2 linked regions of the Homo sapiens genome follow. The protein of the gene in region 1 purifies or fractionates together with the protein of each later gene. This does not show direct contact. Each region holds a gene or a part of one and is shown on either strand. Other genes may lie near its edges. The genes, in order: C8orf34 and ASB7.

What was found.
Region 2: the proteins of C8orf34 (region 1) and ASB7 purify together in Homo sapiens (affinity purification with mass spectrometry; 3 studies listed by BioGRID and IntAct, with this or other methods). This does not show direct contact.

The regions. Positions count from the first base shown.
Region 1 is NC_000008.11:68,526,531-68,542,453, forward strand, and holds part of C8orf34 (uncharacterized protein C8orf34), read left to right. Parts: intron 1-4,062; exon of another isoform or gene 4,063-4,149; intron 4,150-6,452; coding exon 6,453-6,619; coding exon of another isoform or gene 6,620-6,636; exon of another isoform or gene 6,637-12,678; intron 12,679-15,923.
Region 2 is NC_000015.10:100,620,200-100,636,122, reverse strand, and holds part of ASB7 (ankyrin repeat and SOCS box protein 7), read right to left. Parts: intron 6,687-15,923; coding exon 6,081-6,686; coding exon of another isoform or gene 6,073-6,080; exon of another isoform or gene 5,914-6,072; intron 1-5,913. UniProt on the Homo sapiens protein: Probable substrate-recognition component of a SCF-like ECS (Elongin-Cullin-SOCS-box protein) E3 ubiquitin-protein ligase complex which mediates the ubiquitination and subsequent proteasomal degradation of target proteins.

The sequences.
Region 1 (15,923 bases):
GCTAAACTGATTCTAAAACATCATATTTATATATTCTTAAAAATAGCTCTTACGCATAAAAATCTATATGCAACAATTGAGTGTGAAACTTTTCATGACCTCTTCAACTTCCAAGGCCTTAGTGCAAAGGGCACCCTTTAATTAATGACTGGAGTCAAAAAAAAAAAAAAGGACACAGGTTCAGCCTACAAGACTGTGAGGGTGAACTCAACAAGCTTAGGAGATAGTCCAAGAAATCATCCAATTTTTCACCAAAAAGAACGCATGGAATCAGATCAAACTAAATGTTTACCAACCTATGCTCAGAAAGAAAGCGTGAAACTAAACGGAGCAAGCTCAGGCCCACGAGTGAGACAGGAGTCAGGAGGAGGAGGGCCAGTGGTCAGAATGAAGGCTCAGGAGGCTCCACCTGCTCAGGCAGGCCCACAGGGGAGGTTCTGTGGGGTGACCTCTTTAAACTGTTCCTTTCCATTTGATCCTGGTTTAGAAATCACTCTTCTAAACCAAAGCAAAATGGATTCCTTGAGTATATGAACACCAAATTGAAATATTAACTGCTAGTCTTTCTCATCAGGCCTCTTTTTGTACACTTTCTCTTGATGTGGGATATTATGGCTCAAGAGGAGGCGTTCACATGTCCAGGATGCCCCCTTTGTGTTCTTTGAACACATAATGATATTAATTACCACTTAGAGGCTGCTCTATGTGCTTTGCATATTGTAACCCATTTCATCCTTATGAAAACACTATTATTCAGAAATGAGAGGCCCGGCGCAGTGGCTCACGCCTGTAAGCGCTCTGGGAGGCCGAGGCGGGCGGATCACAAGGTCAGGAGGTCGAAACCATCCTGGCTAACACGGTGAAACCCCGTCTCTACTAAAAATACAAAAAATTAGCCGGGCGTGGTGGTGGGCGCCTGTAGTCCCAGCTACTCGGGAGGCTGAGGCAGGAGAATGGCGTGAACCCGGGAGGTGGAGCTTGCAGTGAGCTGAGATCGTGCCACTGCACTCCAGGCTGGGTGACAGAGCAAGACTCCGTCTCAAAAAAATAAAAAATAAAAAATTAATGAGGAAACTAAGTCCCAGAGTGGCTACATCCCCATCCCAAGATTGATAGCCGTTAGGTCACTGAGCTAGGCTGCCTTGCTTCAAATTCTGTGCATTTAAATCCTTTGCTCTACAGTCTCTCTTCAGAAAGCTGTTCTAAGAATCCTGTTATTAAGCTTTAGGTTCAAATCTGGGAAAGAGGGGCCTCGGAACCCTAAGTGCTCTTAGAAAAACCCCTCTTGTTCTGATCTCACTCAACACCATCTGTATGAACACTCCTGCATCCCTGCAGCAGGCAGCTATTTTTTCTTAATGGTTGTAGGATCCACAGGCTGTGGGGCTGGAGAAGAGGGTGGTGTCATCCTTTATCGTCTGCTGCTTCCAGATCTTGCTGTCTCCTCCCTAAAACAATCCCCAGTTCTGCATCTTGTTCTGAATTTCCCAGTGTGTTAATTTCCCACATCATCTTCTAGCAATAATTTGCTAACTGCCAGCCATTCCCCTTTCTCTGAACATTCAAATGTCCGGCTCCTGTAACTCTCCCCAGTAGCTTTGCTGCATTGGTTAAGTCAGCGTCAACATCATCGGTGATCCTTCCCCAAACCTGGCCTCTCACTTTCTTTACCTACTCTTCGCCATGTATCTTGAATTCCACCCTACCTCCCCATCACTCCCTCTGTCATATCCTAGACCTTCTCATTCTCATTATCTGCAAATCCATGATGTCAATTTCAGGCATCTCACTTTCTGACTACCACCTGTCGTCTTTCTAGTTTATTGCCTCTGACACTCAGCTTTAACTGGGACCCCAAAAACACTGAGACTGCCAAAGTTTTCTTGTTTCTCACCCACCTTGTTCTTAATTTTTCTCCTTAGTCAGGTTTATCTCTGCCCCATCATGGTAATTTGTCCCTTGGATATGCCCTCAAGTCTTCTGCTCCTCTTTTCCTGTTTTACTCTCCTGGAAAAACTCTACCATGTTTACATCTAATTGTTTCCCTATTCTGTGGCTGAACCAACCTAGGCTAGAGAAGGACACATGGCCACACTGGCCAGTATCACTGAATTCACGACCACCAAACTCCAGGGGCACACTGGTGCTACCCGGCAATGCAGCTGCACCTGCCTCTGCCATTCACATATTCACTCTCCTCAATGATGACTTCACATTTTTCCTGCTCTCCCCCAATCTCCAAAACTTTTCCCCATCATCCTTATTCTTAACTAATGACTCTGTTTCCCATTTCAAAGAGAAAATAGCTGCAGTCATAAAGAAAACCTCCATAAGCTTCCTCCAGCAGACTCTCTGTGCACCTGGCTTATCTGTGCTCAGGTTTTCTGCTCTTCCCTATGGCTATGGGTGAGTCACTCATGCTCCGCCTAGGGCAAGCTCCTCCACTCAGCGCTAGGTCCTTACTCTAAATCACCCATGTAAGCTCATCACTTCTCTTCATTCCCTGCACCATTCCTTTCTCCTAGCTCATTCCCCTCAGCATGAAAGTACGATGGAACTTCTCTCTAAAAAGTGAAGCCTCCCTGGCCCCAGCAATTAATTGTTCTCTGTCTTTCATTCAATTTACAAAGAAGCTCCTCAAAGTAGTTTACTTGTGTGCACTGACCCCTCATTTTGCAATCTTTTCCAAATAGAATGTTATTCCCACCACCTATTGAAAGCAACCTTGTCAATGTCACAGGACGACCTCTTGTCCAAGTTACCCAGTGTCAGTCAAATGACCTCTGCCTTCTGAAATTCCAACCTCAAGTCTCAGCCCCCATCTTACTTGACCAAACAGCAGTGTTTGAGATTTCATCTCTCAGTTATTTATTCAAATATTTTCCTCGCAATCCGTATCTGTAATTGTGAAATTCAAAATGCTCTGACAATGAAAGTTGTTTTCATAATTCATTATAGCAAAACCTGATCTGAACCCTGCAGATTCTTTATTTATCCCACTCAGTGGGAATGCTGATACATAATGATGTAGAAATACTGAAGTATTTGATAACAGGGTGAGGCCACAGACCCTCTGGAATGTATTATATAATATAGAGTTTATGCAACAGAACACATCCAGCCTCAAGGATTCTAGAAAAACAGTTATGGACCTGGAATAAAATTCTAAGCTTACAATTGGTTAGATAACACTCTTTTTCTGTAAGTAGGCATGTTTTGATAATATGTTTGCCTTTTAGAAATAATTATATTATGTTTTATAAACTGACATTTGATTTATGCTTATTCATATAAAATAACATTTCAAGATACAGTATATATTAATTTTGCATAAAATATTTAATATCTAACCATCCTATATATATATTTAGGTACATAGTAAGCACAAGCAGTAGTCAGAATGTACATATAACATCTGCTTCAAACAGTTATACTTTGTGAATTATTATTTAACTCCTAAGGGGGAAAATCGCCTTAAAGCCGTAACTGTCTTTTTACATGAAAACATAAAATATATTTGGTAAGCATAGAATATTATAAAGTATAATATTCTATTACATTTTGTTAAATTTACAATATAAAATTTAAAGTTATGAAGGAAAATTTAATTGATTTATTAAACAGACCTAAGTAGAGCTATTTGCCAGGCACTATTCTACATTTATTAACCCTTTTTAATAGTCCAACCACTGGATTATTAAATATATTGGAAGTACTACAGTAAGCTGCATTATGGATAACAAAACTGAGGAAAAGAAAGAAGTAACTTGCCCCAAATTATTCATCTTGTAAATAAACTATGTTCAATTGTCATTCATAGCAGTATCTATATCCCTTCTAGTAGTCAAAATCAAAAGCGAATGGGGCTAAAATAATACATGAATATTGTTATTTTAAATGAATTTAATTTAGATAAAATAATTTAGGTGTTAATTCAGCTTAACATGTTAGATCTATCAGCTAAGAAATCCAAATTAAAATTTTGTTTTGATTGGTTTTGTTTACTTCTCAATGAATAAAGTTGGTCAAGGAAGACTTTAACATTGTTACATTGTTTCTCAGTTTAGAAGACACGTAATGCAATGATGCAGAGGACAGATGCCATGGCAAGAGACTGAAGCTAAATAAACTTCTTCCTTCCATTTTCAAGTGAATATTTATGTTTTATTTCCACTATTAAAGAGTAAACATGATTTTCTTTAAGTATTTGGAATGATATCGAGGGTTAGTCAAATTAAAAAATTACTTAAAAAGGGGTGCATTTTTACGACATCTTAGCAACAATCCTATTTCTGTTGGGAACCTAAGTTGGGATAGAAGATAAAATTAAAATAAATATTGCCAACATGTGTATGTTTTCATATATTTGTTCTTATTTTTTCCCTCACCTTTTTACTTTTAAAAGTTTCAAACCACAGAATATTTAAAAGTAGTAATATCAAGATCCACATACCCTCCACCTGTATTCACCAATGAACATTTTACCATCTTTATCTATGACCTATTATCTATATATCTATCATATTATCATATTCTATTTTTTGCTGAACCATCTGAAAATAAATTACAGATTTTATAAAATGTTAATTCTGTTATTCTTCAGCGTGTATTTCTTAGGAATAAAGATATTTTCTTATGTACCCATAATATAATCATCATATCAAACCAATCCCACCATAAAGTTATCTAATGTAGAGTCCACTTTCAAATGTCTTCAATTTTTCCAGTAAAGTCCTTTATGGATTTTTGTATACTTGTTTATTTATTTTTTATCTAGCATCTAATAAAAGATCATGTGTGGAATCTAGTTGTCAAATCTTTTTAGTCTTCTATAATCTACAACAGTCCTCTGCCTTTTGTTTCTTTTTTATGACATTTACATTCTTGAAGACTATGGGCCAGTTATCTTCAAAAATTTCTCCCAATCTGCGTTTGTCTGATTGTTCTCTGATTAAATTCAGATTAGATATTTTTGGAAAAAAATTCTACATAGTTGATGGGATGTACTTTCTTATTATATCATATTAGGAAGTACATAATGTCAATTTGTCCAGTATTATTGGTGATGCTAAGTTTGATCACTTGGTTAAGGTGATGTCCACCAGATTTTTCCAGTGTAAAGGTATCAGTTGCCCTTTCTAATTAACAAGTCGTGTCACTTCTGCTTGGACAAGATGGCATGGACTAATTACTTTCTGCTGTCCCTCATACATACCCCTATAAACCCTGAAATAAAGCAAGAGGAACCAAAAGAGAACTGTGAAAAGGGTACATAGGAAGGTGGAATGGTTAGGAACCTGAGGGCTGGAGGAACAGCTTAGCAGCAGGGCTCCTTGCAATTCCACACTTAACAGAATAAGGAGCATTTCTTCACTCCCAAAGTAGCAAGAGAAGGTGGCCCATGTAGGTTATTTCTTCCCCTGATTGAACAGTAGCTACACCAACAACACCAAGAGAAGCCAGAGACATAGGCCAGGGGAATTGACGATTCTCACTGGCAATACATGGTTAGGGGACATGCTTTCCTTCCCTGCCAGACTTGAGACTCCCTTTCTCCACTAAAGATGCTAGGAGAACTGAGTGGCGACAATGAATCTACCTCAGCGGCAAGAAAGAATCTACTTCAAAACATCAGGAAGGAACACAGAAAAACAGAAAGAACAGAAATATGGGTATATACAATGGACTATCCTCACGAGCTTTAGAAATGCTATTTAACTATTGAAACAAAAGTTATAGCACCATCTGATACTCAATAATATTTAAAAGTAGGGAAACTAAAGGGTCCAAAATGGAAGTAAGGTATCTATACTTTACTCCAAGTGGTAAATGTTGATATTAATAAAACAGTCTGCTGAATGTGGTACAATATACATATACATATTGTAACAGGAAGATCAGTCACTAATAAAACTATACAAAGAGATAGACTCAAAAGCACTATAAATAAAAGCAAGACAATTCAATGAGGGAGAGAATAGTCTTTTTAACAAATGGTGTTCAGACAACTATATACACATATGCAAAAGAAATTAAAGTTGAGTATTTTAAAACATCTTAATGTAATATTATAAAATATTTATTCCATCGAATGTGTTTTCCTTAACATGCATTTGCTTTGTAAATCAGGGACTAATAATCTGGACCTTCTAGCTCTTCTTTAAAAATCAGAAAATTCATCGAGTAGACTTTAATTTCCACATGGCAACAATAGGTAGGAGTAAATTAGCACCTTCCCTCTTAAGTGAGCCAAATTTCAGTTTCCCCATACTCACTTGGGAATTCCTTAGTGAGGTACGGATGGGTGTCCAAGAAAGATGATATTTCCATTATCCTTGGGGAAAACTTTAGTAACATGTCCACATACGTGTGTAATAAAATAACCAAATGGAAATTTATTTGTAGATTTTCTTTACTTATCACAGCTAATTAACATTTAAATATTTCTTCAGCTTAAAGATGGAGCCTAAGAACAAAGGATTAAAACAGCAGCAACAGCAACATAAGAAACTCCTGGCCGCAATGCTCTCTCAAGATTCTTTTGAGTCCATCCACAGCCCTACCCCATCTGTAACAGAAGAAGATATTGATAATGAAGATGATGCAATGGAATTGCTGGGTAATTTTAAAAATTAATAATTTCTCATTTTCTTCTTTGACATTGTAAAAAAAACGTGTGGTGATTAAGAGATTTTAAAAGTTTTGAATAGCCTTGTCTTAGGGAAAAGAAACCATTTAGTACATATTTTATTTACATTAGACTCACATAAAGTTGCATGTAAGAACTAAATTGAAATACCCTAAGCATATGAATATTTATTAGACTGTATTTTGTGCTTTGTGTATGCTGCACTTTACCTTCTGACTACGTAATGAAGCGTTATTCTGTGTGCAACTGTGATCAAAATTCAAGTCTGTCTGCTTTATTCTCTGATAATAATTGCCTTGTTTACATCTATTGTCTATAAAATATACCCAAAGTACATATTTCAGCCCTCACTCCAAAATGTCTACCTTTTATTTTGAGGATGCTTTAGAAAAATAGAATAAAGTTGAAAGGGGCAGATAGTAAATTCAGGTTTTATGTTTTCCGTAAATGACGGGAAAGTTTGCAGAGATTTCAAAGTTTCTTCAGGCCTGTTACTTTCATGAAACCTTATTAATCTTGTATATGTAGGATATCTTTTTATATTTTTTAATGTAGTATATGTATGTTTTTGCTTCATCAGAAATCTCTTCATATAAATTTTTAAACTGAACTTCTCTTTGGAACATCATTTTTCTGAAGAAAGAAAATGAAATGTTATTTCAGAGTGATCCACATATAAAACAATGAGTTTTGAAGTCAGTGGTATCAATTATTCTGCTACAAATAAAGAGTATGATTTTCAAATACTTTATAACAATATGCTGTTGTATTTTATTTAGAAAGAGAATAAATAATATAATTATTTGAAAGCCTTAAACACGTTTTACATATAGAATATGGAATCTCAGAAAAATATAGGCCATTTTCTGAAGTTTTTGTTAAAAATGAGATTCCTTGGTTTTAAGTGTTTATGGCAGTAAAATACTATCATTATAAAAAATGATATATTGCTTATCATTTTTGCATAGGCCTACAAAGGTGTTATTTGGTCAATGGTGACAGGTTTGAAAGATGTTTTCTGATGCTGTAAAAACTGCATTCATGCTAACATTAAGGAGATTGTATCATGGCGTTTTCATTACATGCTGTTGGTCCCTTCCAATTGGGTCTTTTCCTCACCTCCAAATCATTAACATGGCAGACGTGCCCTATGTGGCAGTGGTAGCTTCATTCAACAAACATTTACTGAGCACTTACTCTATGCTAAGCACTTGGCTGGGGTCTGGGAACATAAAAATAAAATCATTGTGATCTGTGTTTGAAGGAATTTTACATTGTAATGTTCAAGATACAATACGTCACTACCTGTGCTAACTGCGCTAATTGGATGAAGCACACAGTTGTGTATAGGGGTAACACCTAAAGCAGAGGTAAGGGACAGTGACCCAGGAATGTTTCCTAGAGAAGCCGATTACTCTGGCTAGTCCTGAAAAGCAAATAGATGTAAGCTCAGCAGGTGGGGTGTGGTCATTGTAGGTTTGCTCACGTAGGTATGGGCTGTTTTGCGATTGTGCTCCATAACTATACCTGTAAATGGTTCCTCTGCTTTGGACAGTAACAGGGAAGGGGCAACTGAGATCCAGGGTTTCTTTCAGGAGATGCAGTTGTCCACTCCATGCTGGTACTCCCTAGATCTCAGCTGCCCTGACTGAAGGTTCTAGTCTCCCAAGCTGAAGACCGAGGATTGAGTCTTGGAGACTATCTAATGATGAGCAATTAATAACTAGTCCTCATTAATTCTTTTTTTAGACATTTTAGCCTGTGGTCTGAGCAAGTTTAATAATAAGAGATAGTTGAAGGTTTGGACTTTCTTCATGTAATTCCACATATCTCAGCACAGGTGGCAAGCAGTGTAATAATGTTGGTCTCTAGGTCATGAGATTATCCTCTTATAGCTTGGAATGTTACAAGTCCACTGGACTTTATCTTAAAATAATGCCATATTCAATTTCTTGTTTTTGAAATGGATTCCAGCAAAATGTATGTGATTGTGTCTATTTCAGAAAAATATAAATGCTAAGTTCTTGGAAATTTATGTGAAATCTAATTTTATAGAGTTTATATAGAATCATTGTAAGATGCAATAGAGACATCTGGTATTTAAAATCTTTTTGAATCTACATTTTGTAGATGTGTGTGCTATAGCTTATGTGTTTGTAAATGTTTAACTTGTCTTTGTTATCTATACCAAGATATAACTGGCTGAAAAATATTTATTATGCATGGAAAGCACTCTGTAAACCTTGTGAAGTGATAAATAAGTGAAAGGTATAATTGTTAGTTGACATTAATATAAAAAAGGATTATTCTTCAATAAAATTGGTTGATTTGAAGGGAAAAAATCCTTTTAGTTGAACTAGTAGAAGTTAGTAATAACTATTGACTCTTGTTTTGTTTATTAAGGAAACTAGCATTGTTAATATATACTGATTAATATTTAATTATTCACAGTTGTTTAATTATATATTTGTGGATTTCTTTTCTAAATGTTTTAGGCATATGAAAATATTATAGTACAACACCTGTAATTTTTAAGTAGATCAAATATTTTCTGTAAGATTGCTTTAAATGCTCCTTATAAATTCACATTGCAAAAGTAACTTAATATGGAATTAACACTTGTCAGATAATAAAACAGCCAAACTTGTGAATTTTTAAGATATAATCATTTTAAGCACCTCTGAAATTGGTGCTGTAATTATAGAAGATACTGAGTAAAGTATCTGCCAAGTCATCTCATGCTCAAATATAAGATATTTTCAAATATTTTAGTACAAATATTTTAGTAATCGTTCTGGCAATTAATGACCACTATGAAAAAAAGGTTATAGAAAATCTTCACATATTTTTTAAAATTAATAAAATAAATGATTTTCAAAAATGGAATGACAAGTTACAATGGTAGAATGAGAGATTTATTGCTGGGCATAGTGGCTTAAGCCTGTAATACCAGCACTTTGGGAGGCTGAGGTGGGTGGATTGCTTGAGCCCAGGAATTTGAGACCAGCCTGGGAAACATGACGAAACCTCGTCTCTACAAAAAATACTTATATTAGTCAAGTGTGGTTGCATGCACCTATAGTCCCAGCTACTGGACTGAGTCTGGAAGGTCGAGTCTGCAGTGAGCTGTGGTCATGCCACTGTAGTCCAGCCTGGGTGACAGAGGGAGACCCTATCTCAAAAAAAAAAAAAAAAAAAAAAAAAGAAGAAAAAGAAAAGATCTATAAAAATCCCTGTATATTTTACTACATTAATTATCAGAGAACATTTGAGGAACTTCGTTAGTTTAAAAGATATTTCACCTTGGAAACATGTGCCCATTTTTCTTACATTAGATGCATTTTAATCTTATTCTTGTTGAAAGGCGAGTTTCAGTCACGTTTTTGATTATTCTCTTTATGATTGATATTCATTTAAAAATATCAGTATTATTTGAAAGATATAACTACTTTTCTTATACATTCTAATATGGGTATTACTATCCCATACAATTTGTAAAAGTTTATAAAAAATGTATTATGCTTTCTCAGAATTGATGATGAGGCAAGTATATAAAAATCAAATTCCAAAGATGCTAAAAAGGAAAACAATATTAATTATGTTTTATACTTTTTGGTCTTAGCCTATAATTATATAAAATCCAAAATCAAAAGTAAAATTACATTGCGACAAGGTGATTGCAAGTACATTTTATCTGTTTTAAAATGAATAATCAAGAACAAGTGTAATTATACTGGGATTCTTTGCTGAATATAGTCATTGAGTTTCTATTACCTCAATATGTTACCAAATTTTGTAAAATAAAAACAATTTACTAGAAGGAGTTAATACATTAAGGTGATCATTTGACACTTTCTTTCTTATATTCTGATCAACTTTTATAAAGTAAATATTCACTCTTTGTTCTGTTTTTTAAATTGGAGGCTTCTTAAAGAAGAATGTGCCCACATTGGCAAAATAAGAACAAGCATTTTGCCTAATGAGAAATGAATGCTGTCACTGAATGATGTAAAATTTCTTTAAAAAGGAGAGAGAGGGAGCACTAAATGTTTAAAGAAAAATCTACCTACCTATCCATGTACCTATATTTTAATAAAGTATGTAAAATAATCTAAAACACAAGGGACTATACATAGAAACTCTTTTTATCTCTTTGTTTCTTTTGATCTTTAGAATATTGCTCATTGGAAGTAATCAGGATAACAGAAAAGTTATCACCTTAAAATGAATGTTCTTCATAAAAAAGATTATTCATAAGAAATCTAAGGACTTTCTTTTTATTTTCTTTTTTTTTTTAAAGAGATCAAGTCTTGCTTTGGCTAATGCAGTTTGTATCACTTTCTTATGTCCTCCTTCCTGATATATTTTATAGGAGCACTTGAAAAATGAACTGCTTAGAGTAGAAAAAATCACATAAATTATAAAGTAATTCTAGCATAGACTTGAGAAAATGGTTTCTTTATGATTCATTTTCATCATATTATCATGTTAAAAAGCTTTATTTAGGATTCTTTCTTTGCTTTTGCTAAATGTATCTCAGTCCCTTTTATTACCTTCTAGATTTACTTGTTTTGTGTTTAGAATTGTTTTGTTTTTCATACCCTTCATTCTTCACTTTTGTTTTTTTCAGCAAAATATCAAAACATTTGCAAATCGTAGAGATTATCCTTTAAATAAATACAAATCTGCATGCCACCAAAATATATACATCATCCTATGTGATTTACTTTTATGGTGTTTAGTAAGAAATATTGCTTTATTTTCTTGTAAAAAATTTCCAGTGGTAAAAATAAATCAACATAGTAGAATAAACGTCAATAGTTTGAAAATGAAATCTAAACCCATAAACAAATTATTGACAAATGCCTTTTATCTCAATTATACACCTATTGGAAAATTTCTTTATAAGACACAGCCATTTCCAATATATTTGTGAAAAGAGTTGTTTAAAACCTATTTATCACTTTGAATAAGTTCCACGTTTTTTGACACATACCAATAACATAGAATAATATATTTTTTCTTGTTTATGTTATAGCTTTTCACTGAGTACCTTGTAAAGGCATGAGACACAGTGTGATTGGCATATGTGGTGGTGTTAGTGGTATATGGCCAAAGCACCAGCTTATACTCTAATGACCCAGGTCTAGACCTCATGCTACCTCTTGCTAATATTGTCCCCTCAGGTACACGTAATTAATTGTAAAGTGCTGGTGACTACATATGACCTTCCTACTCAACAGGGATGTTGAGAGGATAAAAAAAAAATGAGATATTTCTCTAAAGTGCTTTTTTTTTTTCTTTTTGTCATGGCTAACAGGAATATTTGACAAAAGACAATAGAATTTCTATACAAAACTTTTCTTCTAGATAAATTTATATCCTTGAACCCAGATACATTTTGTATGCTACAGACAAAGGAAAAAAAAAGCTTTCTTTAGCTTTGGGAAGTTGCCTAAAAACAGCAAAAATGTATGTTTCCCACAACACAATAAAATTAAAGGCTTGAAAAGATAAGAGGTAAAGCTATATGTTTTTGCAAGCCAAAATGTTGGCTATACCAACACAAAGCACTAAATTTTTCATTTTTAACTTGGATATTAAAGCAAGGATAGATGATTTGGTTAAGGATGTATAGAAAATTATTCTACTGTCTTTCATTTTCCTCTGTGTAAATGTATAATTCCTAGGAGGAAAAGAAAAATGTTTTCTGCCTACATATGTATCTCTAGTAGCAAAAGTTGGGCTTAGGGTAGGAATAAGGTGGAAAGACAAGGAGATATAGAGAAATTAGAAATTTGTACTATATGTTTACATGCTTATGTAAATAAAATTATAAAAGTGTTGAAAATCTGTTCTTAAAAATTTCTTGAATTATATTTATAAATATGAAAATGTTTGAAGCAGCACAATTTGATGGTTTCACATTAATTCACTGTGTAAACAAACCTAAACTAAATTGAAAAGCAGTGTTACATATTATTAAGGTATTGTTGCTTTTGAAATAAACTTGCCCACTTCAAATGCTTTATAAAATGGTGATGCTATATTTCAAGATCATTTGTTTAGCCATAGTAGTAATTTTCATCTAACTTGACTGAGTTTAAATTTTGTACTCTATTTAAAAGTCATTTGAAAGCAGTGCAAAATCATAACTTTATTGTAGTTTTATTCGTGGTTGAAAATGTGCAAAGAAGTGTAATTAATTCAGCACTTGGTTGCATTTTAACATCAAAACCAACAGATATTAAAGAAGCATTAAAACTCTTGATGAACTTATTAAAAATCAAATGTATAACTATAGGAATCCATTTAAATTTTCATATATCACAATATTCCCAACAACTTATTAAAATATCTCTAAATAGAAACCTTAAAATTATTGTAGTTGGCCAAGCACGGTGGCTCACGCCTGTAATCCCAGCACTTTGGGAGGCCGAGGCAGGTGGATCACCTGAGGTCAGGAGTTCGAGACCAGCCTGGCCAACATGGCAAAAATCCCATCTCTACTAAAAATACAAAAAATTAGCCAGGCATGGTGGCACATGCCCGTAATCCCAGCTACTCGGGACACTGAGGCAGGAGAATCACTAGAACCTGGGAGGCAGAGGTTGCAGTGAGCCGAGATTATGCCATTGCACTCCACCCTGGGCAACAGAGTGAAACTCCGTCTAAAAAAAAAAAAAATTATTGAAGTTTAATACTAAATACATGTTAACGGAAGAGTGGGCACAAAACTTGTCAATTATTTTCAACATCTGAAAAAATGGCAGCTTTTATGAGGTTTTATTCAAGTATTTTTAAAAAGAATATTATAAACACATTTTCAAAATCCCAAATGGTAAACTAGTCCTATGTGTGAATTATTTTTGAAATGAAAATCTTATGATTTTTCTTTTAAAAATGTCTTATGTTCAACAATTTCAGAGAGAAAATAATCATAACAATATTAAATATTTTTTTAAATTGCTCTGAAACTATTAAATAGAGGAGCACTAAAGAACAAAATGGAAAAAATATAAGTGTTCTAATTAAGGTAAATCAAAATCTAGTGATTTTATTTTACTTTTCAATTTTTTGGTTTATGTCTGCAAAAGACAGTTGAAGGTCTTATTTTAATAAATGATGTATTTCTTATATCTAGTATGAACTTAAAATTTCATATACAATTTTATGTATTTATTTTTTATCTCTGGCACTTAATGACAGAAAAAATTTCATATATAGTTTTAATTTCTTTAAAACTTTTTCAAGAATTGTCAAAAGAGGATTTGTTGGACTAGCGCTTTTTCACTTCTTAAGTGCTCTCATATGCTGTCATAGTTACTTTTTGATTACAGACATTTTGAGAGGACTCTGTATTTAAAGAGTTTAAAATAGAGGCCAGGTGCGGTGGCTCACTCCAGTAATCCCAGCACTTTGGGAGGCCAAGGCAGGCAGATCACAAGGTCAGAGTTTGAGACGAGCCTGGCTAGTATGGTGAAACCCTGTCTCCACCATAAACGCAAAAAAATTAGCCAGGCGTGGTGGTGCATGCCTGTAATCCCAGCTACTCGGGAAGCTGAAGCAGGAGAATTGCTTGAACCCAGGAGGCGGAGGTTGCAGTGAGCCAAGATCACGCCACTGCACTCCAGCCTGGGCGACAGAGCGAGACTGCGTCTCAAACAAAAAAAAAAGAAAGAAAGAATTTAAAATAGAGTATTATTAATATGGTAAAACAAAGTTTAAATTTATTGCAGGAAATTAATTATATGGAAGAGAAAATAGCATAATATTAGAAGTAATAATAGCGTGACCTTTGTGTTCAGATAGCCCTTGTTTGAAGCTTCGCCACCGACCCTAATTATATGATTTAGGGAAAGTAACTTTTTTCCTTCAAGTATCAGTCCATTATCAGAAAAATGGAATTAATAACAATACTCATATCTTAGGGTTTCGTGAGGATGAAGTAAAATCATGCATGGAAGGTACTCAGTATATCTGATAAAGAATTAGAGCTAGTTCCAGGCATGCTGGCTCACACCTGTAATCCTAACACTTTAGGAGGCATAGGTGGGATGATTGCTTGAGTTCAGGAGTTCAAGACCAGCCTGGGCAGCATAGAGAGACTTCATATTTATTAAAAATTTAAAAAAAATTACTTAGGTGTGGTGGTGTACGTCTGTAGTCCCAGCTACTTGGGAAGCTGAGGGGAGAGGATCACTTGAGCCCAGGAGGTTGAGGCTGTGGTGAGCTATGATGGCACCGCTGCACTCCAGCCTGGGCAATAGAGTGAGATTTTGTCTCAGAAAGAAAAAAAAAAGAAGAATTAGAGATAGAGAAAAGACTTGTTACTATAATTCATATCATTTTAATACCAACGCCTCTCCTGTCTTTAGCATGTAAGTTTCGTGCATGTTATAAAGTAAGACCATAGAAGTTTGGCCTTAGGGGTTTAAATGCTTAGTCTTATCCTAAATATCTCAGTTAGAAATGCTCCACATAGTTAGAAATTATTTCAACAAGTACCATCTTCTTGATAGTTAAGTCTTACTTCTAATTTCTTCCCTTCTTTTAAAGATCACAGACAACTTTCTGAAAAGATCATGGCATAGAACTTGAATTTTCCCTAATGTGTTAGAATGAATCTTGGCCTATTCACTTATTTAAAGACAGTACACTCATTATAAAAGAACATTATCATGTTCAAATTTTTCATGTAGTTTGACTGAACCAATTATTTTAAACAATTTGAAATATTCAAGCTTTTTATTTAAAAAGTATCAAAAGGTAAAATGATATATCTGGTTTTCTATTATATGTATATGCATTTGTTTTTGTTATTAGGTGGGTGCAAAAGAAATTGCAGTTTTGCCACTACTTTTAATGGCAATTACTTTTGCACCAACCTAATACAAGGTTACTTGTCTCCCTGATTTATAGTCATAGACACTCTGGGGTTTTCCTGTAGCATGGAAAAGATGGTATTGGGCTTGTAGAAACGTACAACTTGATTGGCCCCCATGAATTCCAACTTACAGTGGGAATGGAATGTGCAGAATTCCAAGCCTGCCTCAAAGAAATAAACATTTTCCAAAGCTTATACAGGCTATACACTACCTTTGTATTACAATGCATTCTCTTATCTTCTCACAATACAGAGAATCCACATCTAATAATATAAGAAATATATCAAGAGATGTCAGGGAAAAGGGACAAAACTTTTCCTTTCTTTTCTTTTTTTCTCCCAGGTTACATCTGATTTGCTTATCTTTTCTTTACGGACTTTTTCGCA
Region 2 (15,923 bases), on another chromosome or scaffold:
AATGGTAATTTTGACGAACACTGAAATGGTAAATTTGACTGTGAATTGACTGGTCTGAGAGTGGCAGCCAGTATTAAGAAGCCCCCCACTCAGCTGTGAGTTTTACTCCCAGGAACCCCACCAAGTCCTCAAGGTAAAGAGCCAGTAAAGACACTCTCATGGCTCCAGCATGAGGAGGTGAGAGTAACCCTTGTGAAATGCACCCAGAACCTTCTCCATGACAAAGGCCCGAGCCCCGGGGGGAAAGACTTTCTCAGAACCTTGTCTCAGAGCCACGAGGAAAGCCCATTCCTGAGTCCAGTCCCCTCTGGCCTCCTGTCTCGCTTATGGGGCTGGAAAAGCTACACAAGAAGAAACGTGTGAAGACGCAGCCTAGGGACCCAGGCCCACTGAAAGACTGAGAGTGAATCAGAAGACTGCAGACCACTGGCCCTCCCCACACCTTACAACTGCACCAATGGGGCTTCACCGTGTAACAGAGGATGAAAGCCGAGAAAGCTGCAGGATGCACCCTCTCTCCAACGAGGCTGCTTAGGGAAGCCCAAAGCCAAGACACGGGACAGAAACAAGGGCACTGCAGGGACCGGAACCCTCTGGCACCTACAGCTGCAATAAACATGACTCACAGCCCAATTCACAGCCAGATTAACAAAAAGCCTCAGGTCAAAGGACTGTTTACCTCAGTTTCTGTTACCCACCATGTCTAGCTTCAGTAAAAAAATCACAAAACATACTAAGAGGCAAGAAAAAAACACAGTCTGGAGAGACAAAATAAGCATCAGAACAAGACTTAAATATGACACAGGTGTTGGAATTACCAGCCGGGGAATTTAAAACAACCATTAATTATTAAGATTAATGAAATTATTAGATGGTAATTGTAAAATCCTGTCTTAATGCCTTAATAAGCAGCAGCTCTGAGGAGGTGAAATTCTCAACACAGTACAGATGTGGGTGTCATTGGCAAAGGGAAACAGGAGTGACAAGGTGACCCCCCAACAGTGCTGTACCTTGTCTGCTGGGGCAAACCAACCTTTGACTCTGCTTTGCCTTTTGAACCTTTCCCTCCTACGTAAAGGGTAAAAAGCCTCACAGTGAAAGGAATTCCCAGGTAGAAAGCACAGTATGGCCTCTTTTCTGCAAATAATCTAGCCAATCAGACACCGCCTCCTTTCCAGGGGGCATTCTCCAGGAGGGAGCCATCCTGTTTACTGCTATCTTACCTTCCACTGGACTGTGTTACTGAAAGTTTCCCCCAATTTCCATACCATTTGCACAAGGAACTGCAGCTACTATTTCTTTCTTTCTTTCTTTCTTTTGAGATGGAGTCTCACTCTGTCACCCAGGCTGGAGTGCAGTGGCGTGATCTCGGCTCACTGTAACTGCAGCCTCCCGGGTTCAAGAGATTCTCCTGCCTCAGCCTCGTGAGTAGCGGGGACAATAGGTGCGTGCCACCACACCCAGCTAATTTTTGTGTTTTTAGTAGAGACGGGGTTTCACCATGTTGGACGGGCTGGTCTCTAACTCCCGGCCTCAAGTGATCCACCTGCTTTGGCCTCCCAAAGTGCTGGGATGACAGGTGTCAGCCACTGCACCTGGCCCTATCTCTTTTCTTTTCAATCCTTTCCTTTCACCTGCAGAAGTGGCTCGGTGAGAACAGTACTTACCTTGCCAGGTCTATAATTTGTGCTTAAGCATTCTGAGGTGGGGTTTTCCCCAAAAACATATATTTTCTCCTACTTCTCTTTGAACAAAATTGCAGTTGTGCCGATCATTAAAGCCTCACTTTTATATGTGTGTACACGTGAATACGTATATGATTAAACGTTCCTGCTAGTCACTGCCTGAGGTTCAGCTTTCTCATGGAATCTCTTTCTAAAAGATTTCATATTCTGAATAACTCCCTGGTCCATACATTGACTATGGGAGTTTACCCTGTGAGGAAGAAGATAAGAAAAAAAACTCAGTAACTCACTATCTGATTCTTCAGGATGGGTGGTATTATTTACTCCTCAAGCTTTACTGAGGAACAATCTTTTCACAAGGTTATAGTACTGTATCTGTTTAATAACATCTGCTTGTGTCACCCTTTTCCTGTTCATAACCACTAAATTTCTCTTTTGAATGGGGCAAACATTCCCACAACCTTCTGCTCTTCACCTGAGGCTGGAGAACTGTAACCAATGCCCACATGCCAGAGCCTCCAGGATCCTCTTAGTTCTGGAGTGGTGTGTGTGCAAACATTATGTACACATTATTCCACTTTGTGTGCACGAGCCTGAGAATGAGGGCCTCCTAAGTTTTGTGCCCTGGCCACTTCACTTGCCTCAACCTAGTCCTGGCCCAGGCACAAGGGGCTATTTACCTCCAAAATGTCCACTGCTGTCTGTCCTCACTACCATTTATTTCTCTTTTTTTTCTTCCTCCTTCCTTCCCCTCCTTCCTTCCTTCCTCCTTCCTTCCTTCCTCCTTCCTTCTTCCTTTCCTTCCTTTCTTCCTTTCTTTCCCTTTCCCCTTTCCTTTCCTCTCTTTCCTCTTTTTTTTCTTGAGAGAGTTTCACTCTTGTCACCCAGGCCGGAGTGCAGTAGCACAATCTTGGCTCACTGCAACCTCTGCCTCCTGGGTTCAAGCGATTCTCCTGCCTCAGCCTTCCAAGTAACTGGGATTACAGGCATGTGCCACCATGCCCGGCTAATTTTTGTATTTTTAGTAGAGATGGGGTTTCACCACGTTGGCCAGGCTGGCCTCAAACTCCTGACCTCAGGTGACCCACCCGCCTCAGCCTCCCAAAGTGCTAGGATTACAGGCATGAGCCACTGCGCCCAGCCGTCACTACCATTTCTACTTGACATCGGTCACACCTTCACTGTTCTCTCTTTAATTTATTCATTCCATTCTTTTTTTTTTTTTTTTGGCTACAAGTAAAAAACCAAAAACTGGCTTCTTATAAACACTGCCAACTAAGCAGGACGCAGCTTTCCTCCCACAGGTGGCGCTCATTATTCAGGCAGGTGCTATGGCTCCTCTTAGCTGTGTTTATCATTCCTGGGCACAGAGAAGTGGCTCCTCCATGGATGGGCCCTGCTGCGCTCCTGACGTCCTGGAAGGGGGAGGTTCTGAGGTCTGAATGCTGGACAGCGGGCTGGCTGTAGGGAACAGCAACAGCAGCTCTTCATGGCCTCTCCCCCTACTCAGCACTAACAAGTCACAAGCAGATGTTAGTTTATTACCAAGCCACGGGTGCGCTCTGTTTTTTTTTTTTTTTTGCACTATATAGATCAGAGTTTTTACGGCAATTTTTCCAAAAGGCCAGAGGAGTTTTTAAATTCTGGTATTATAATTTTTTTGGTCTCTTCCAATTTAAATAATCTGTTTCTAGGCAAAACAGTGTGATGAAGAGTAAAATGTCCCTGAATGAAGACCACCATGTGGCCCCTCTGCTGTCCTTATACCTCGGCAGTCTGCGATCTCCAATCATAAGCCAACAGCATGATGCCTGGGGCTGCGGTGCCCACAGCACGCGGGCTAGAAGAAGCTCTCAGCTTTGATTTAGTGCTCCCTGAACCAACCAACCTTCTTTCAAGCTGCTTTTCATGAGAAAGCTCAGTCCAGAGCATCAGCCACAGCTGCTCCTTCTAGCCCATATTGTTCACCAGGAAAAGAAAACCTATTTAGAGCCAAAGAACACACAGGTGAAGCAGAAACACCAAATTTGCTTTTGGCAGGAAACACCACTGGAGAGTCAAGAAATACTAAATTATGTTGAGGCACCTGAAGACAAAGGACAACTGGAGCCTTAACAGACGGAGGACCCTGCACTCAGGAAAGCAGCCTGTGCTTCCTCAGTCCCCACCCCTCGCTGTGCGCAGTCAGCCAGACTGCCAGGACTACTGAGGACCTCCTAGGCGCACAGCTCTGCTCCTCGTACAGTGGAGAACCTAAGCACAGACAGAGGCAGTCCCCACTGACATTTCTATCTGCTCAAATTTTAAAGTGCATGTGAGTCTTTAACTCAACATTCCTGCTGTCCAACAGCACTGCTAGGGGCAGCTCTGAGGGCTCAGGGACACACGGCAGCCGCCCACGTGCTTGTCCTGCCCAGCGGCTCCTCTCGGCCACGTGGCTGCGTGCCTCCATGTACAGACTCTGGACAGTTGTATACAGGGTTGAAACTGGGAGGCTTGAGTTGAATATGAATCTAAAGATTTGCTCTGTTGGTGGCAAGCCAGTCCTCGCTGTTAATCCCCCCTCACTTTATTAGTTACACACTTCACCTTGAAAAACAATTACAAAGAACAAGAACATTTTAAGTGTTAAGTGCATTATAAATATTAACTCATTTAATCCTCATAACAAGCCTGTATTATCTTAATTTGAAGGTGAGGACACTAAGGCACAGAGAGATTAGGCGACCTGCCCAAGGTCACAGCTAACATGGGATAGAGTTAAGGCTCAAACTCTTGCAGTCTAGCTCTAGTCTATGCCATTAACCACTGAACAAAGTATTTTAAAAAAGGGGGCTGAGGCATTTAAGTGAGTATATAACATGCCTTCCTAAGGGCGGCCACACTCATCATAACTAAGTCTCTAATGTAGAAGTTGAGAGAACAACAACAAGGCAAGCAGGACTGCAGCACTGCGGGTATCACGTCTCCCAACTGTGGCGACTTCTGTGTGTCTCAGAAGCTTTCTGCAATGGAACACCCACCAGTCAGCCCCAGATACCTCTCCCAAGGCAGGCAGATCTGTGTGGACCAACAAAGGAACCACCAGGCACTTGTGGCCATTTAAACTTAAATCGCAATTAAATAAAATTGAAATTTCAGTTCCTCAGTGGCAACGGTCACATTAATAGGTGCTCAGCAGCCACATGGGACCAGTGGCTACTATACTGGACAGCAAGGAGAGACCATTTCCAACATCACAGAAACTGGTACTGGCCAGCACTAAGTAGACTAAGCAGTGTGATTTTTTCTTACGCTTTAGTCTGAAAACATTAGTGATAATAATTGCATCTTTTCTTCCATGAATCTGCAAAATTCAAATTACATTTTGTTTCTTCATAAAGCAAATGTGTACTCCAAAGGCCCGCTCCAAGGGGTAGAGTGGGTTACTTACAAGCAGGTCAGGTAGAGCCCTTGCCCTCTAGTAGCTGGTACCCAGGATGTTAATATGTCCTCTTGTATAATAATGACCGAAGGCTCAAAACCAGTGAGGAAAAAGGAACTCATTAAAAAGTTCAGCAGACAGCAAAATCCATTTTGTTTACAGATTTTAGCTTCATGGTGGACATTAAGCATGAGACACACATTCAACTGGTCACGTGGAAGCTTGACAAGAGAGGATGGCTAAGTACACACAAGCTGATACCCCATCAGAGGAACAACTAGGACGCACGCGTTACTACACAAAGTGGGCCAGACACTTCCAGGCTTTAAAAAAAGCACCCACACAAAAACGTTCAAATACAATGGAAGCCATGTGGTCCAGGGACAGTGGTGCCAAACTTCCCACTGCAAATATTTTCTTACAACAATTTCTAGCATCCTTAACTTCCACGAGTGGTATCCCTAAATACACAGCACCACTGCTCCATTTCATGTGGGCTCTCATGAAGCAGAAAAGCCACAATTAAAACGTGAACAACTTAGCAATAAAGCACAAATTCTAGGATATTTTCACAGGTAAGGAATCTAAGATCCAAAATTCCCCCTCTAACTCCTCAACTTGCAGTCAATGGAAGCCAGGTAAGATTATCCTTATGACCAACAGGAATTGCCTTGTTCTAACACAGATCTTTGTTCATTTAAAAAAAATTCTCCTCTCTGTCCTTCTCTCCATTCCTTCCCTCACTCTTACTGTCTACCCCTATTACATTTAGAAACACAATTGAATTTTTATGAAATCTTGTGATACAGTCAAAGTTTTTTTTTTATTTCAGAAGAATGAGGCATCGCTTACCAAGCAGTGGTTATAGGAATGATTAATATCTAGTCATCTTAAGTTGCAAAAACACATTAAGCTCCTCAGAAGATGCAAATTTTTAAAAAATGCAATAAAGTAATAATTATATTACATACTTGTGACTTCTTGTAAGAAATCCAAACATGGTCGACTACTTCCAGAAATACTTATTGAAACAGCCAATGGGGTCTGTCCTTCATAGTTCCGTGTGTTCGTGTCTGCTCCGTAATTATATAACATCCGTGCACACAGCACATCATCCCTAAGGGCAGATAAGTGTAAAGGAGTCTGTCCGTCTTCTAAGCGACCCAAGTTTGTGTCTGCCCCTCTCTGAAGGAACATTCGGCAATAAGAGTGATTGCTTTTGATCACGGCGTATCGCAACAGGAAACCATTCTGAATGTCGATGTTGGCATTGTGGTCCAGGAGGATTTTCACACAGCTTGACCTCTCTCGGATAATGGCGAGCTGAAGCGGTGTGGTACCTTTATCACTGAGTGGGTCAACCTCAGCCTTGAACTCCAGGAGGAGCCGGACAAATGAGTCCCTGCCGTAGTGGGCAGCCACATGGAGGGGAGTCCAGCCGTCATTGCTTTTTGCATTAATGATGTCGCTCCTGTATTCAGATTCTAACATCAAGCGTGCAATGCGGGCCCGGCCATGCATGGCTGCATAGTGAAGAGCCGTGAAGCCTCCGATTAAGTCTTTAACTGTAGGATCAGCTGGAGTTAAAACCAAAATGAAAGTATTAGCAGACTCCAAGACAAAACAACAAACATTACCATGGCACAGCAAACTGTGGCCAATTCTCATATAAAATGTGAAGCAACCAAACACTGTAATGAATATCAAGTACGTTTTTCCTCAGTTTAATTCAAGTCTGGTTTTAATGGAAAATAAATTTTGTAGAATGTTATCACGTCTGGGTTAATGAAAGGAGAAAGACAAAGTGTTTAAAAAGATATACACAAAAAACACGGAGTACAGATCACCACATCCCCTGTCTTTGCTAATTTAACCAACTGCCTCTGGCTACTCAACTCCTTCATCTCTGCACTGTTTCATGTTTCTCTTCTGTTTTGAACTTTTTGTTTTATTTTCTCTTGTGCTTCTTCTCGGTCTTAAAGAGAAGCATGTGTAGCAACATCTGCTGCTCTAAATTACAGATACACTATGCTCTGGCACACCGTGTTGTTTTAGGGTATATTAAGTAATAAAAAAAAGTTTTTCTGTGGTCTGTAAAAATTCCAAAGCATCTCAGATATATGTCAAGTAATCTTGACAAATTGTTTTTTCACAAGATAGAAGTCTATTCTGAATTCTTAGTTTTACACGAACTTTGGAGTTTATAAGAATTAAGCAATGCATTATGTGAATAACCTCAGCATTGTAAAAATATTTTCTAAAACAGTTCCAAAAACCTCTCCTAATTGACTGATCTCTGGGGAAGGAAAAACAACTATAATAATTTATCTGCTATGTGACTCAAGTCACAGTCTTTTGTCACTGGCCTCAGATCTTTCATTAAGCCAAAGGTTGGTTCTTGATGGCGTTCACCCCATGGCATCCCTGGCTGGGGGCAGAAGACGGACGAGGACTGGTTATGCCGGGCACCTCCTAGAAGTCAGCAATTCCATGTAAAAGATCAATTGATCAGACCTAACTACCCAGGATGAAAATGCTCTCTTGTAAAAGTCACCTTAATTTTTGGCTTGTTAATAAAAGAAAAAAATCATTAATGTTTTACACACACACCTACACATACATACACACACACAGCCTCCACAGGTGAGTGAAAACTCACGTATTGTTTAATAAACGTTATTTAGGTCTAGAACATATTATGACAAATGGTTCTCTTAGAAAAATCTGAGGCAGAAAACTATATGTAAAATAACAATACTGTGGAAAGTATTTCAGTGAAGGAGTTGCTAACAAAACCTATACAAAATAAGATGTTTTTAGGTAAGCCATATCATGTAGATTTCTAAAAACATTTACTGTAAAGTGTCAGTACACAATGGTAGTATTAGTTGTATCTATTTAGGGGAAATAAGGGCATTATATCTACCTTGGTCTTAACTGAAAGAAAAATATACAGTATCTGTTTACCACAGGACTTAAATTTAAGTAGGGTAAGAACATTTTAACACAGCATTTTGCTGCCATCTGCTGGTAAGGCATGAGCATGACACTAATGTTTCCACCGGGCAGATACTGCTGAGCCCTTAAGTCACTCAAGCCGGTTCCAGGTGCATCGCTTACCAGAAGTTCAAAGTCAGGCGTGAAATCTACAAGATGCCCTCCCATTCAAATGAAACAAAACATCTTGCCAGAGGTCATTTCTAATCTATACCTGGCCAGTCAACTGCTGGCAGACATTCCCTCTTAATCTGCAAGTGAAATTTAAGAATACCTTCTTTTCACTTCTCCCACCCTTCAGCCACCATCCTTATTTGTATCCTATACTCGTTCTATTTGACAGTAAAATTAAAATTATGTTACAAAACACTGCACTTGCATCTTTGGTTTCCATTTCAGGTCTCTTTCAGGTTCTATGTACATTTTGAAGCTACACTGAGCTAAGGAAAAACAGAGATTAACACACACAACAATGACCTGCATAGTCTCTGTTAAAATCAAATGGGAGATTAGAAGCAATGAAAATGCAAACAAATGTAATTTAAAGATTATTAGCCCATGAAATAAGGTAAGAAAAATATCTCATTTGTAATAGCAACATAAACTACAAAACGCCTAGACAGAAATTCAGTAAGAAATGGACAAGACGTGAAAACATTAAGTGAACTCATGTCACTCTGTATCCACTCAAATGTCCTTTTATCAAAAAAAGAAAAGCCTTCCCTAAACATTTCATCTAAAACAGCAACCCCACTGAACTTATTACTTTGTCCCCTTAGCAAACATTTTCTCCCCAGGTGGAACTTATTTTAAATAAGCTGTAGCATAATCTCAACAAGTTCATTTAAATTTACGAGAAAAAAATTTAATGTATATAAACAGAAGCAAAGAAACATTACCTATGAATATGAGGGGATTTTTTTTTTTCTAACAGCTTTATTGAGGTAAAATGCATTCACTTTAAGGGTACAGATGATGAGCTTTGATAACTGTATACGAGTATATAACCCACCACCCTATTTAAAATATAGAACATTCCATCATCTCAAAAAGTTCCTTCATCTCTCTTTAGCCCTTCCCAGACTCTGGGTCCCAGGCAAACCACTGGTCAAAAAAGTTTTGTCATTTCTGGAAATTCATATTAATAGAATCATATGTAGACTTCTGTGTTTGACTTACTTCACTTTGCATGATGTTTCCGCCATACTTCCATGTTGTATCGACAGTTCACTCTTTTGTATTGCTGGATAGTACTGTATACTATATAGTTTTTTTAATCAATTGATGAGAAGATGGGCATTTCAGTTCTTACCAATTTGAGCCTATTTGAATAACACTATCATGAATTAATATATGAGAGAGAGACAGACAGAGAGAGAGAGAGACAGAGAGAGAAGGAGAGGGGGACAGAGTGTTTTCATCTCACTTGGGTTCAATACCCACGAGAGACTTGCTGGGTCGTATGTGAAATGCACATGAAACTTTCCTAAGTTCCTTTTTAAATGGCTACACCATCTTACATTCTCATCAGCAATGGATGAGTTCAGATTGTTCTACATCTTGGTATCATTAGTCATTTTAATTTCACTCATTCTAGAGAGGTAAAATCGTGGCTTATTGTGCTTTTAATTTCTATTTCCCTAATAACTAGTTATACTGAACGTATTCATATACTGTTTTGTGAATTGTCTGTTCACCTCCTTTATCCATTTTTATTGGTTGTCTCCTCATTAATGAGTTGTACAAATTCTGTGTATATTCTGGATACAAGCCTTTTGTCAGATGTGTCTTGTAAATATTTTCTCCTAGTTTGTTGCGTGCTTTTTCATTTTCTGTATTATGTTTTGAAGAGCAAAACTCTTAATTTTGATGAAGCCCATTATTTATTTTACAGTTTGTAGTTTTGTATCCTATTTTAAAAATCTTTGCTCAATGCATTGTCACAAAGATTTTTTTTCTTCTAGGAATTTTGCACTTTTAACTCTCACATTTAGATCAATAGCCCATAATTAATTTTTCTGTGTGGTATAACGTAAGTTCAAGGTTCAGTACTCCCCACAAAGATATCTACTTGTTCCAGCACAATTTGTTAAAAGGACTCTTAATGATTTACCCTAGTGTCACTGCTGAAAATCAATTTACCATAAAAGTGTCGCTCTATTTCTTAATTCTGTTTTGTTCCATTGACCTAAAAGTCTCTCCATACACCAATCCCACACTGTCTTGACTACTGTAGCTTATAGTAAGTTTTAATAGCAGGTAGCTTAAGTTCTCTAGCCTTCTTTAAAATTATTAATATTTGGGATAATAAATTTTAGAATCAGCTTGTCAAGTCCTCAAACAAGCCTGCTGGAATTCTGATTAGAACGCCACTGACTCTAAGGATGGCAATCTCTCCAAAATGATCCAAACAATATTGATTCTTCCAAACCATAAACATGGGATAGTTCTCTATATAGGTCTTAATTCTCTTCAGCAATGTTTTATAGCTTATATACGTCATGCATATCTTTTGTTAAATTTATTATTAAATATTTTAAACTTTGTTGCTATTATAATGAGCTAAAATTCCATTTTCCAAATGATGACTGCTGATAGAAATAAAATTGATTTTTATACACTGACTTGTGTATTCTATAACCTACCCAAAATCACTTTTAGTTCTAGAACACATTTGTAGTTTTCTTGCCAGGGTCTACATGCACAATTATGTTCTCTGCAAATACAGTTTGACTTCTTTCTTTCCAATTCATGACCCTTGATTACTGCTCTGCCCTCATTCCACTGGTTAGAACATACAGTAGGATGCTGAATAAAGTGGCAAAAGCACAGACCCTTCCCTTGGTTCCTGATCTTAAAAGGAAAGAATTCAGTAGTTCACCACCCGGGAAGCTGTAGCTTTTCATTGCTTTGGAAATCACCTTCTGCTTCTGGTTTCCCATCTTTCTCATGAAGGTATTTAAGACTGTTCCATTTTCTGAATCTACTGAAATGATTGTTAGGTATTTATGTTTTATTCTAATGTGACAAATTACTCAGCCTATTGATTTTCAGATGTTAAACAAATATTGTACTCCTGGAGTAAATACTACTTGGGCATAATATTTTTTTTTATACACCAATAGACTGGATTTGCCAATATTTCGTTAGGAATTTTGGTATCTATTGTCATGAAAAATATTGGCTTATAGTTTTCTTCCAAGGTCTTTGTTTGGTCTGTATCAGGGCTACACAAGCCTCATACAACAAGCTTGGAAGTGTTCCCTCCTCTGTCAAAAAATTTGTGTAGAATCCTTATTTACGTCCTTTAATATCTGAAATAATTCAATGAGAAGCCAGCTGGACCTAAAGTCTTCTCAGTGAAAAGTTTTAGTTATGAGCTAGACTTCTTAAATTGATATAAGGCTATTAATCTATTTTTTCCTTGGGTCAGTTTTAGCATCAGTTTTGTGCATCAGGAAATCTGTCCATTTTTCCTAATGGCACAAAGGTGCCCATTATACTCCTAATCTTTTTGATGTCTAGAGGATCTGTAGTGACATATCCCTTCCACTCTTTTTAAATTTTTTATTGGTATGTGATATTTTACATGTTTACTGGGTATATGTGAGTATCTATTACATGCACAGAATGTGTAACGATCAAGTCAGGGTATCTGCGTTATCCATCATCACCTTGAGCATTTATCACTTCTATGAGCTGAGAACATTTCAAGTCTTCTCTTGCAGCTACTCTGAGATACATAATACATTGTTGTTAACTATAGTCACCCTATTCTGCTATTGAACGTCAGAACTTCTTTCTTCTAACAAATGGAACCCATTAACCAACCTCTCTTTATCTCCTCCTACCACCAACATACCCTTCCCAGCCTCTGTTTTCTATCTTCTATTCTCTACTATCGAGAGGCCAACTTTTTTTAGCTTCCACATGAGTGAGAACATGATATTTGTCTTTCTGTGCTTGACTTATTTCACCTCACATGATGACCTCGTCATCTATGTGGCTGCAAATGATCTCATTTTTTATGGCCAAATTGTATTCTATTGTGTGTATATATACCACAATGGACACTTAGGTTGATTCCAAATCTTTGCTATTGTGAATAGTGCTGTAATAAACACACAAGTGCAGGTATTCCTTTGATATACTGATTTCTTTTCTTTTGGATACTCAGTAGTGGGACTGCTGGATTATATAGTATTTCTATTTTTAGTTTATTTGAGAAATGTCCAGTTTTCCACAGAGGTTGTACTAATTTACAGTCCCACCGATGCCGTATTAAGAGTTTTCTTTGACTGCTGGATTACATAGTATTTCTATTTTTAGTTTATTTGAGAAATGTCCAGTTTTCCACAGTGGTTATACTAATTGACAGTCCCACCAACACCGTATTAAGAGTTTTCTTTTCTCTGCCTCTTTGCTGGCATCTGTTATTTTTTGTCTTTTTAACAGTAGCCATTACAACTGGGATAAGATATCTCATTGTGGTTTTGATTTGCATTTCCCTGATGATTAATGATGTTGAGCAATTTTTCACATGCCTGCTGGACATCTGCATGTCTTCTTTCGAGAAATGTCTATTTGTGTCCTTTGCTCACTTTTGTTTTTTTGAGATGTAATTTCGCTCTTGTTGCCCAGGCTGCAGTGCAGTGGCATGATCTCGGCTACCTGCAACCTCTGCCTCCCAGGTTCAAGCGATTCTCCTGCCTCAGCCTCCCAAGTAGCTGGGATTACAGGCATCCACCACCACGTGGGCCCAGCTAATTTTTGTATTTTTAGTAGAGATGGGGTTTTACCATGTTGGCCAAGCTGGTCTTGAACTCCTGGCCTCAGGTGATCCACCCACCTCAGCCTCCCAAAGTGCTGGGATTACAGGTGTGAGCCACCACGCCTGACCTGCCCACTTTTTAATGGGATTATTTGTTGTTTTTACTGTTGAGTTCCTTGTATATTCTGGATATTACAATGTCCCTTGTCAGATGCCAGTTTGCAAATATTTTCTCCCATTCAACAGGCTGTCTCTTCATTCTATTAATTGTTTCTTTTGCTGTATAAAGGTTTTTCAGTTTCTAAAATATAGTCCCATTTGCCTATGTTTTAGTTGTCTGTGTTTCTGAGGTCTTAGCCATAAAATCTCTGCCTAAAGCAATGTCCTGAAGTGTTTTTCCTGTTTTCTTCCAGTAGATGTGACGTTCCAGGTCTTATGTTTATGTTTTTAATCCATCTTATGTTGTTTTGCATATGGTGAGAGACAGGGGTCTGGTTTTATTCTTCTGCACATGGATATCCAGTTTTCCCAGCCTGAAGAGGGTGTCCTTTCCTCAAAGTATGTTCTTGTTATCTTTGTCGAAAATCAGTTTACTAAAAATACGTAGATTTCTGGATTCTCTGTTCCATTGGTCTGTGTCTGTTTTTAGGTCAATACCATGCTGTTTTGGTTACTAGAGCCTTGTAGTATATTTTGAAGTCCGGTAGTGTGATGCCTCCAGCTTTGTCCCTTTTGCTCAGGATTGCTTCAGCTATTTGGGCTCTTTTTTGGTTCCATATGAATTTTAGGATTGTTTTTTCTAACTTTGAAAAACTGATGTTGGTGTTTTGATAGCAGTTGCATTGAATCTACCAATTGCCTTGGATAGAAGAGTCATTTTAACAATATTAATTCTTCCAATCCATGAGCATGGGATGTCTTTCCATTTGTTTGTGTCCTCTTCGATTTGTTTCATCAGTGCTTTGTAGTTTTCCTTGTAGAGATCTCTCATCTTCTTGGTTAAATTTATTCCTAGGTTGTTGGGTTTTTTTTCTTTTTTCTTTTTGTAGCTATTATAAATGAGATACCTTCATGATTTCTTTTTTTGCCTGTTTCATTACTGGTATATAGAAATGCTACTGATTTTTGTATGTTGATTTTGTATCCTACAACTGTACTGATTTATCCAATCTAAGAGTTTTTTGGGTAAAGTCTTTAGGTTTTTCTAAATATAAGATCATATCATCAGCAAAGAGGAACAATTTGACTTTCTCTTTTCCAATTTGAATGCCTTTTATTCCTTTCTCTTGCTTGACTGCTCTGGCTAGGATTTCCAATACTACAGAGAATCTCTCTTCCACTCTTGATATTGGTTATGTATCTTTTCTCCTGTTTTCTTTTTTTCACCATTCTAGACAAAGATTCATCAATTTTATTGATCTTTTCAAAGAATCCTTATTTGTTTTTTAGTTCCATCTATCTTCTCTATCATTTGCCCATTTTCAATTCCACTGATTTCAATTATTCTGTTTATTATTTCATTCTTGTTTTTACTTTGGGATTACTGGATTCTAGAAGTATACAGAAACTGTTTCAATATAGCTCCTTTCTTTGTGCAATTACTGTCATATATTTCATCTTTACATGTTATAAGCCCAACAATTTAATTTCACAATTATTGTCTTTTATTTTAAAAGATGAAATGATGATAAAAATACATTTACACTGTCTGTGGCAAAAGTACTCAAAGGTAAAAGAATAGCATTTCCTAATAACTACTGCCAATGATAGACTTTCAGCTTTTCTTCTACACATTTTTAAAAAATTATACATAGCTGTAACCATACTCTAATTACTGAATTGCTTCTCTATATTTGGGCATTGAGAATGCCTACGTTTGAAAAATTATATACAATGAAAGGTAGGCTTTTTTTAAAACTACATCATGACATTCGGAAAGGTGAAACTTTTGTATAGAAAGTATTTCCTGCTTTTAAGACTGATTCCTCTGGCCACGTTAAAAGAATTATATTTAATCTAATCATTAATTAAACTTAATTTAAATAAAGAGTTAACATAAATTCTATATTGGCAAGATAAACTACTGTTTTTAAGACTTCAATACATACTGCTAAACTGCTTTCCAAATGTACTCTCATAAATTCCCATCAGTGTGCCAGTGTCACATTTGGAATTATCATTTGCAAAATCTTTCATTTTTGAAATGCTAAAAATATTTTTCACCGTTCTTCTGTGCATTTCTTTGATTACCCCCCTATCTCCTACTTTTTTTCATGTGTTTCACCAAAAGGATTTTACCTACTTTATCGAGAGGTTTTCTCAGGTTCCTCTGGGGATTTGCTTTATAGACTTAACTTCTGGAGCTTTAGCCAACTGCCCGTGGGCCAATTTGCATAAACACTGAATCTGAAGATGAATAAATGCACTAAGACATTGTCTCTTCCAACGTTATTTTCTTGAAATGTCCAGCATGGTCTTGGAGTTTTTAGAAGACTCAAAATTGGAAAATGAAGATAATAATGAGTTTGTTACAATTTCCACCCTTATAATAGAGACTCTTCCATCACGATTCTAACAGTACACTAACCTGGTCTGAGAGGCTACCAGGGTTTGTACAGACGTGCTATTATATGCATCCCATAAAGACTACCAGGGTTTGTACAGACGTGCTATTATATGCATCCCATAAAGACTACCAGGGTTTGTACAGATGTGCTATTATATGCATCCCATTTGTGCTTAAAACCTCAAGTATTTTCGGACCACAGTAAAACCCTAAGTTTTCATCATTTTGACGCAGGATGCTTGAAGGTAAAGCAGCAAAGTACCACTTGTATGCACAGGCCAGTGTTCCACTGTCAGCCCTTCATATCCACGTGTTCCCTAGCACAGTGTCAACAAACCACAGATGAAAAATAACTTGATTAAAAAATTAGAAATAATACAACAATACATTTTTAAAAAACAATACAGTATTACAACTACTTACCCAGCATTCACAGTGTGTTAGGTATTATAAGTAATTGAAAAATGATTTTAAAGTACA